3 linked regions of the Homo sapiens genome follow. The protein of the gene in region 3 purifies or fractionates together with the protein of the main gene of each other region. This does not show direct contact. Each region holds a gene or a part of one and is shown on either strand. Other genes may lie near its edges.

Region 1 (3,736 bases), on a different chromosome or scaffold from region 3:
AAGAATATGCAGTTTGTTTCATGGTGGTTTTTGTTTAAATAATTTAGAGAGGTACAACTGAGGCAGATGGGAAGAGAACAATCTTGGCAGTTGCCCTGATCCACTGCCCTGCTGTCATGTTTAGGTGGTAGACACAATTAGAGGAGCTGAAATTCCATTCACCCAACAAGAGGTTTAGTAAACTTGATCAGATTTCTATGGAATTTGTAGGAGCTTTTTATAGTCTGAATGACCTATGGCCTGCGATTTGGTGAGAGCAGAGCAGAAAGCGGCAGTGGATTGACGTTTCTTCTGTAACAGTTCCCAACTCTAAAATTACTTTGATTAAATTAGATGATTATTTGTATGGGTTTCAGTCTCCCTTTTCCCCAGCTGTATCGTGCAACAGTTCAGTTAGCTATTTCCCTCTTGGACGCTTGCACTAAAAGCTGGTGATTTTATTTTCTTTTTTTTTTTCAAGGGTCTATCAGTAGAAATCTATTGGTTTGGGGCACCTAGTTCTTAGCTTAGAACCTATATAAAGGAAGGGTATTTGAACTGCTGATTGAGTTTCTCTGAGTATAGGACTTTAGCCTTTCTGAATGTTGCAAACCTGAGGCTAAAACTAGCTTCATCTTCTCTGCACACACTTACATTCTACAGTGCTCCAAGGTGAAACTTCATCTATTGACTACCTTTTCTTGGAAACTCTTCTCTTGGCTTCAGTGTCACTTATAATTGCTACCATTTACTGAATACTTACTCCGTGTCAGGAATCTCTGTCTTAGTATTTAATCCTCATGACAACTTTATCAGATGTGTAGTACTATCTTTATATTATGGATAAGAAAATATAGGCTCAAAGAGAGTAATTAACTTGTCCAAGGCTTTGTCAATGAAATGCTGGCCATAGCAATATTGGGCAGCTTTGCCTCTGTGCCAACACCCGTGCTGCTCTGACCAGACTCCCACTGAAGTCTGCTTAAGCTGCTGCTAAGACCACTTTGGATCTCACAATCTAGCCTCTTTCAAGGGGAGGCCTAAACACCATGCCTCACATCCCTGTTTGTTTCAGTCACTACCCGCCATCCGCCATCCATTATCTTCCCAATACTAATTCCTTTACCACTCTCTTCATCCTTCAGCTGATTCAGTCCCTCAAACTGTTCCACCATGTTCTTTACAATATCCCCCTCCTTGATCAGCAGATTCACATGTAGTATCAGTCTCTAGCAGCAAGATCAAGTTATAAGGGCAACAGTGGCAAGTGTTAGCACTTAGTATCCAGAACTGTGATGGTGCAAACCAAGCTGCAGCATCTCCTGCTTGGCATTAGCAATCACATCTTTGCCAACCCAGTTCTGTAATTTTGAGTGTTGTTTTAGCTGTGTAGCACTTAAGTTCTTCACTGAAAAAGTGACCTCATATCCTTTCTGTAAATTCTTTTTCTGTTTAATTCAGCCAGTGTTGACTTCTGCTGCTTGTAGAACTTGGAGTGATGTACGGGTTGAACCTAACCATCTACCTTCTTAGTTGCTGGCACTCATGGAGCTGAGAGTTGCTAGAGAAAATCAGCAAATTAGACAGATCAGTGTCATTAAAAATTTATAATCATCTATTTCATATGCATAATCAGCATTACCTAGCAATGTTATACATTTCTCTAGTTCACTTTCCAGCTCACTGCGAATTATTTCTTCATATTGTCTCTTTCTCTTTTCTTTTTTACTGAGACAAGGTCTCCCTCTCTCACCCAGGCTGGAGTGCAGTGGTACAGTCACAGCTCACTGTAGCCTCAAACTCCCTGGTTCAAGCAATCCTCCTGTCTCAGCCTCCTGAGTAGCCAGAACTACAAGTGTGCTACCACGCCTGGCTATTTTTTTATTTTTTTGTAGAGACGGTATCTTGCCATGTTGCAGGTCTCCAATTCTCGGGCTCAAGTGATCCTCCTGTCTCACCCTTCCAAAGTGCTGGGATTATAGGCATTAGCCACTGTGCCTGGCCTACTGTCTCTATTTCTTTTTCTCTTTTTTTGAGATGGAATCTTGCTCTGTCCCCAGGCTGGAGTGCAGTGGCGCGATCTCCGCTCACTGCAACCTCCGCCTCCCGGGTTCAAGCGATTCTCCTGCCTCAGCCTCATGAGTAGCTGGGACTACAGGCACGCACTACCACGCCCAGCTAATTTTTGTATTGTTAGTAGAGATGGCGTTTCACCGTGTTCGCCAGAATGGCTCAATCTCCTGACCTCGTGATCCGCCCTCCTCAGCCTCCCAAAGTGCTGAGATTATGGGCATGAGCCACCGTGCCCAGCTCTTATTTCTAATCTCTCATATTTTCTTCTTTTTTAACCAGTCATAGGCTTTATGCCTCATTATAAAAATGGAAGCTGCTGAATGGGAATTCCTTCATTCTTTTACCTCCCAAGTCTACAAACCTATGTGCATCTGGGACTCATCTTTTTCTCCTTCATTCTGTCAAGACCAATCCCTTCACAGGTGCTGTAATCATTCTTTTCTCCCCCTCCCCCCTTCCTCCTCCTTTCTTTTTCTATCTTTCTTCTCTCTCTTTCTCTTTGTTTTCATTCATTTTTCTTCAAGAGATGAAGTCTCACTCTGTAGCCCAGGCAGGAGTGCAGTGGTGTGGTCATAGCTCATTGCACCCTCAACCTCCTGAGCTCAATAGAACCTCCCTTCTCAGCCTCCCGAGTAGCTGGGACTATAGGTGCATGCCACCATACCTGGCTAATTTTTTTATGACTTTCTTGTAGAGATGGGGTCTCTTTTTTCCCCCTAGATGGAGCCTTACTCTGTCACCCAGGCTGGACTGCAGTGGCACTATCTCGGCTCACTGCAACCTCCGCCTCGTGAGTTCAAGCAATTCTGCTGCCTCGGCCTCTCAAGTAGCTGGGATTACAGGCATCCGCCACTGTGCCTGGCTAATTTTTGTATTTTTAGTAGAGACGGGGTTTCACCAGGTTGGCCAGGCTGGTCTGGAACTCCTGACCTTGTGATCTGCCCACTTTGGCCTCTCAAAGTGCTGGGATTACAGGCGCGAGCCCACACCTGGCCAAGATGGGGTCTCTTGCTATGTTGCCTAGGCTGGTCTTGAACTCCCAGCTTCAAGTGATCCTTCCTCCTTGGCCTTTGAAAGTACTGGGATTATAAGCATGAGCCGCTGCACCCAGCCACATTTTAAAAACTTTTTGTAGAGATGGTGTCTCACTTTGTTGCCCAGGCTGGCCTCGAATTCCTCGCTTCAAGCAGTCCTTCTGCCTCACCCTCCCAAAGTGCTGGGATTACAGGTGTGAGCCACTGTGCTTGGCCTCTCCTGTCTTAAAGAATTTCTTCCTTTGGTTTATTTCATCTTTCTACTAGGTCTTTTCCTTCAGAATTCACACTTGCCCTATTGTCTCCCATTTTGAAAACCCTGTCCTTTGACCTGCATATTTTCTGTTGCTGTCATGTTTTTCTATTCTCTTTCACAGGCATGCTTCTTAAAGGAGTTTTCAGTACATGCTATATGTGCTTTTTTCCTCTCATGAATTCCTTAACTCACTCCTGCTATAATATTCTGTTTAACCAAAACAAAACCCTCTTGCTAAAGTTGTTGATGTCCATTAGATTGGGAAACATGGGGGTCTTTTTTTTCAGTCCTCATCTTCTTGGACCTCTTAGCAGCATTTGACATTGACTCCTTGTGAAACACTCTTTTCCCTTGGCTTCTGTGACACCGATCTTTACTAGCTTCCATCTTATTT
Region 2 (3,500 bases), on a different chromosome or scaffold from region 3:
TAAACCAATAATTTTTCTCCGTAATGACAGTTCTGAGAAGAGTCTAAAATGAAATTTTTTCTCTCTTGCAGACTTCAGTACATTAGAATTTAGTAATGTATAAAATATAGTAATATTATTTCCTGTCACCATGAATCAACAAGACATAACCATAGCCTTTTGACAGTCTGGTTAAATATTTAACACTGTGATTACTATAACTTTCAGGTTCTCTCTGATAAATAATTGTAAGGAAAATAAAGACAATTCTGATATTTCAAGGATTTGTTTTTTTAACTAGAGCCTAAACTCAAAAATTCAAAGAACTATTCTCCAGTAAAGGATGGAAAAAATCTGAATTGTATTGTGCCCCAGTATAGCTCAGAGACCTAACAGTTATGAGTGGGGGCTGAGGTACTGTTTGTAGGGGTATTGCTAATCTAGTGAAGGAGAATGATTCTAAAGATTATTTTTGCCAAATTCTTTATTCTTGCATGGAAATAATCATTGTTGCTTTGATATGCCATCTCTTTATTGCCCTTATACAGGGCCAACATGAAAGTAAAGAGTGGTTATGAGTTTTTAAGGGAGAATTTCTCTGTAAACCATTCTTGACATTGGGTTTATACTATTAGGAATGCTATTGTTTCTATATCCAGACTCCCTCACTCTTTTGCTTTTATACCAAATGTTAGATTTAGAGCTATTATACAGCATCTTGATCTTTCATTTTTTTATTCCAGTGACATTCCGTAATTAACATGAATATAAAGATGCAAAAAGAACAAACATTTTATCTCCAGATATTATAGTGCAAGGGAAGGTGCTTTCACTTATGGTAACATTTCAACATGGCTTCATATTAGAAACTGCAGTGATGCTTCAGATACAGAAATTAAACTTGGCAGTTCTCTGCAGCAGTGGTTCTCAAACCTTAGCATGCAATCAGGACTACATGGGGTGCTTGTTAAAACACAGAATTCCAAACCCATAGAGTTTCTGCTTCAGGAGGCCTGAGCTAGAGCCCAATAATCACATTGAGAACCACTATTCTAGCACTGGTTCACCCTTTTCTTCTGACATAGTTTTCTAAGTGTATAGAGTAATTTATAGTTCATAACCTTGATGCTCTGATACGGGATCATAAGTACAAATTCAACAAATATTTTCTTGATACATCTTTTTTATCACATGAAAGTTTGTTAAACCAAGAGTATTGTTGAGAGAGAAGTTAAAAGCAGCAGTTTAATTAAGTGAGCAGCAAAATGCTGAAGATGGGAATAATGTGCAAAAGAATACCTTATCACTTTATGTTGCCTCTCTTGGCTCAGAGACCTTGAATGTGAGCCTGCTTGTTATTGTCTAAAACTGAACAGTGTATCTGGATAAAATACATGAAGCAGCATATTCCCAGTGCTTTGTGTTTTCTGAAAATGCTTACTGTCAGTATGTTTTATTGAGTAAATTAATCCTTTTTTTCTACAGGTGATGGGCCCCAGTGTAGAGATTATGTCATAAGTCTTGGAGTTGTGAAACCTTTACTTTCCTTCATAAGTCCATCTATTCCTATAACATTCTTAAGAAATGTTACTTGGGTTATGGTCAACTTATGTCGCCACAAAGACCCACCACCACCAATGGAAACCATTCAGGAGGTAAACACTTTTAAAAAAAAATTAAAAGAGATACCATTATATATATATTTTTTATTTGTGTATGTTTTTAAATCTACATATTTCTCTCCTCAGATTCTTCCAGCCCTTTGTGTTTTAATTCATCACACAGATGTAAATGTGAGTAAATGTGTCCTATTATATATTTATGTATGTATGTATGTATTTCTAGGGCTTCCCCTGTGACATAGGGGAGAAATATTATACTAACACATTGTGTCAGCATACTATCAGATTTTCCCATTTCAAGAGTTATTTTATATTAGATTAGTTATTTTATAATATTTTAATATTTACTCTATGTTTATCTATATCACAAAATATAATACCAGTTAAGAAATCAAGCATAACTGTTATTTTGGTGTGGACAATATTGTATGTATGTGTATATATTAGTGTTATAAAAACTGACATTAAAAGTTTTTAAAGTTGCCAGATAGTGGTGATTTCTCTTACTAAGATCATGTCTTTAATTGTTCTTGTGCTTTTTACAGAAGGTCATTTTGACAGTTTGGCCAATGAAAGCACACACAAATAGTGCTATTTTTGTTTTTTGAAAGATGAAAAAGGAAAATGTTTGTGCATGGATTTGTATTCATATACACATACCAAACCATGGACATCAATTGCCCTTTAATTCCATTTTTATTCTATTTCTCAGTTACAGTGACTGGCAGTGGCTTCATTTATCAAGATAACTTGATTATCCAAACAACAGGAAAAAAAAATCAGTGCAGGCAAGATTTTAAACATAGCAAATATATTTTGCTTATTTTTACTAACACAGATGGCAGAGGAAAAAGCAACTCAGGGAGTATGAATGAGGTGGAAAACTGCCCTGAGTGCTTGTAAAAGCCAGACCAGCCTTTGGTGTGTTAGAGAAACCAGGAATATAATGGGTAAGGGAAAACACATGAATGAAATGTTTAGCAACAATCAGGAACTCATGTGGTTCTTTAAAAACAGTTTGGCATGGTGACCAGTGTTGGACAAGCTGCTTCATTTCTTTACAATTTAAAGGCCTATGCCTTTTGGCCAGAATTTAATTTGTATGGAACAAATTAAAATTAGAATTTTACTGTATCAAACAGTGACATAATATATAAAATTCATTAGATGAACATGATCTCTGTGGTAGAGTTTTTGTTTGTTTTTAGCCCCAGATAGTTTAGGATCTTAAAAAATGTGTAAGTAATTTTTGGTTTTGGCTCCTTAATAGCCAAGTTCTTTGATTAAATTGTGAATTTCAATATTTTGCTTTGAAAGATTTACAAGAGGCCAGGTGTGGTGGCTTATGCCTATTGTCCCAGCACTTTAGGAGGCTGAGGCAGGAGGATCACTTGAGTGCAGGAGTTCGAGACCAGCCTGGGCAACATGACGAAACCCTGTCTCTATGAAAAATACCAAAAAATTAGCCAGGCATAGTGATGTGCACCTGTAGTCTCAGCTACTCAGTGGCTGAGGCAGGAGGATCTCCTGAGCTGGGGAGGTCAAGGCTGCAGTGAACTGTGATCATGTCACTGCACTGCAGCCTGAGTGACAGAGCAAGACCCTGTCTCAAAAATAAATAAATAAATAAATAAATAAAACGATTGGCAAGAAAGATTTAACTTCAAAGTTTATACCTCTACTAGAAAACAAGACATCTTGGTTGACTTTATTTAGAGATAGATTGTGTTCTTTCCACCTATTTACTCCAATCTAGATGAGACTGTGACTCCATTTTCTTGCCTTTGATGTATCTTGAAGAATTTCTCAAGCCTGTTTACATTGTTCTTTTTAGTAACATGATTAACAAATAATATTGCTTACTAAATAATGTGTTAGAAGTTTGATTTGAATTATGAT
Region 3 (2,790 bases):
TTGTCTATGCCAGTACTAAGCAGGACTTGGCCAGGCTGGTCCTCCATGAATGACTGTCAAATGGAAAACAGAATTAGGAACCAAAGTAGTGGTGTAGACAAAAGGGGCTGGAACCTCAGAGGAGAGAGGGATCATGGGAGATTGGAACATCTCTGGAAGGTTAGGGGAAGAGATGACAAGTAATGTGAATCCTAAAGAAAGAGGATTAGTTATTGGGGGTGCTAAGTGTGGATGGCAAACTAAGGAAGCAGGGATCTGCATGACCATTTGGAGTCAGTAGGAAGCTTGGTGGAGTGGGAGGTGGGAGTCAAGCAGAGAAGGCCTCCCATGTCAGATAGGGAAACTGCACTTGATCCTGGGCAAGGGGGAGCTATGGAAGGCTTTTGAGCAGGGGAGTGATACAATGAGAACAGCATTTTGGAAGCCAGCATGGAGGGGAGGCTGCTAAAAGGATACAAGGCTGAGGTTATTACCATGCCCTGGGTGAAGAAATGCGGTCTGGGTTTGGAAAGGAAGGGATAAACATGACTTTTCAAAGGAAGACATAATTGCCACAAGGGCCACCAGAGAGCAGTCAAAGGTGTGTCCAAGGTTGGAGCTCTAGTGACCAAGAGAAGGGTGTCAACTTTGACAGAAATGACGTCATGTGTGGTTGACAAAATGAGACCACATCCTTTCGGTCATGATTCATTGTCTTTATTAACAATGTCTCTGGACTCTGGAAGAACAGACTGTTAATTCATAAAGCAATATTAACATTGTCATTCTCTACAAGAAAAACTTTTGCATAAATAACTTAAGTGAGAAAATAAATATGTAACTTAACTCTTTAAAAACCACTACTTTCATTCTTGTGGACAAGTCCCACGTGGAAGAATTGCCAAAAAAACGACCAGTCCTGCAGGCTTTCATATGTCATGTGCTTCTGTTTAAAACTTTTTTTTTTTAACAATTAAAAACTACACAGAAAGTAAGAGGTTGTCTGGAAATGATTTTCAAAAAGATTTTTGGGTGGCAGTATTATGCTCTGCAGTTTCTCAGCATATGTACAGCACTTGTAGTTTTTCCCCCAATAATATTCTTTTAGTGTAAGATATGCCATCACATGTAAGAGCAGTAAGAAGCTGTTTTCTAGGCAGAAATGTGTCCGTGAGTGGTGGGCAGAAGGCGGTGTCTCAAAAGGGATGTGCTGGTCTGTGAGTTTGTGATGGCTGCTCCCTCGGGCCTGCAAGGCCAGTGTCCTTGAACCTTTCACTTCTCTTCGGAAGGTGACTTTAAAACATGGCTATGGGTCGGGGGAGGGATGCTGCTCTTTGGGAAGTTGGGGCGGATGTGATTTCTATCCCTCCCACCACCCTCGGACCCTCTCCTTTTCTACCCCAATGGATGATGTTATTTCTTTGAGATGGAGGGGTGGAGGTAGCCAAACATCCGGGGAAGCCAGGCTGGGAAGCAGCATAGCTTCTTCCAGGAGTTTGTCAGCCGTAAATATGTCAGCCATAAATAGACTCTTTACTTTTTTTTTTCTGTTTGTTTTTCATCTTTGGCTGTCAGAAGAGAGCATCACAACTCTGAATTCTGGAAGTGACCTTGGCACTGAATCAATGCAACTGCATTCATTCTCTCTCTTTCTCTCTCTCTCTCTCACCTCTGCCCATTCAAAAGGCACTGGAGTCCTTGGAATCATATGCCAATAGTCTCCTCGAGATCCTATTCCCACCTCCACCCTCATTTTACAAAGTGGAAATTGAGGTCCCGAAGGAGAATTGTGTAGTTCAAGGTTACACAGCAAGTTAGTGGCAGAGCCAGGACTAGAAACCACATCTACAGTTGCCCCCAGTCTTGTGCTCTGGGCACGCCTCAGGCTTTCTGATGGGCAGCGAGGTGCAAGGGGGAATCTTATCCAACTTTCTTAACCAGTCCCTGGACTTTCCCACTCCCACACCGCTCCCTTAAAACCCCAGGGCGGTGAAAATGCTTCCATTTCTGCCTCCTCTGAAGTGGGACCAGCAAAGGTAGGCGGCCCCAGAGGCGGGGCTGCGTGGCTCAGTGTCTGTGACTCTCAATTCCCTCCCCTGCCCCGTGGGACCCCTCAGCTGGCGGGCTGAGGGGGGCCTTGCCGGCGCCCGGGATTCCTCAGGGCCTGGAAGGTCTCAGCCCCCTGCCCTGGGTTGCAGGCATTTACAATGAAATATAAACAATCAAACCACGCGCAGAGGACAGAAATGTGGGGCGCGGGTTCAGGGCCGGGGCGCCCGCCGGTGGGGAGGGGCGCGGGCGGGCTCTAGTAGGCGTTCTCCAGCTCGGCCTGGTTGGCTTTGGCGCTCCGGGCGCGGGGCCGCGGCTTCCGGCCCTTCTGCGGCCGAGCGGCCTCGGTCCCGAAGTCCTTGAGCTCCGACTGGTTGTGGAAGCGGGTGAGGCGCTTGCACTTGCACGAGGCCACCAGGCGCACCTTGCGCGCGCGCGGCGCCTCACCACCGGGACACAGCAGCTGCACGCGCTGCGCGCGGTAGCGGTCGGGGATGCAGCGGAAGTCGGGCCCACTAGGTCGCCACCACTTGCCGCGGCCGATGGCGTTGGGCAGCAGGCGCGCCGGGCCGCACTGGCCGGAGCACACCAGCTCGGTGACCGGCTTGGCGCTGCGGCACGGCCCATCGGTCACGTAGCGGGTGAAGTGCAGCTCGCGGCAGCTGTACTCGGACACGTCTGTGGAGAGAGGCGCGCGTGAGGGTGGCCGCCCGCCTGGCCACCCCTGCCCTGGACCGGCCCGTCTCTCTCCACCCCAGCCCT

What was found.
Region 1: the proteins of SOST (region 3) and AHCYL2 purify together in Homo sapiens (affinity purification with mass spectrometry; 2 studies listed by BioGRID and IntAct, with this or other methods). This does not show direct contact.
Region 2: the proteins of SOST (region 3) and KPNA4 purify together in Homo sapiens (affinity purification with mass spectrometry; 2 studies listed by BioGRID and IntAct, with this or other methods). This does not show direct contact.

What each region holds. Positions count from the first base shown.
Region 1 is NC_000007.14:129,231,494-129,235,229, forward strand, and holds part of AHCYL2 (adenosylhomocysteinase 3), read left to right. Parts: intron 1-3,736. UniProt on the Homo sapiens protein: May regulate the electrogenic sodium/bicarbonate cotransporter SLC4A4 activity and Mg(2+)-sensitivity. On the contrary of its homolog AHCYL1, does not regulate ITPR1 sensitivity to inositol 1,4,5-trisphosphate.
Region 2 is NC_000003.12:160,524,072-160,527,571, reverse strand, and holds part of KPNA4 (importin subunit alpha-3), read left to right. Parts: intron 1-1,464; coding exon 1,465-1,634; intron 1,635-1,727; coding exon 1,728-1,772; intron 1,773-3,500. UniProt on the Homo sapiens protein: Functions in nuclear protein import as an adapter protein for nuclear receptor KPNB1. Binds specifically and directly to substrates containing either a simple or bipartite NLS motif.
Region 3 is NC_000017.11:43,753,058-43,755,847, forward strand, and holds the end of SOST (sclerostin precursor), read right to left. Parts: intron 2,707-2,790; coding exon 2,285-2,706; 3' UTR 681-2,284; downstream 1-680. UniProt on the Homo sapiens protein: Negative regulator of bone growth that acts through inhibition of Wnt signaling and bone formation.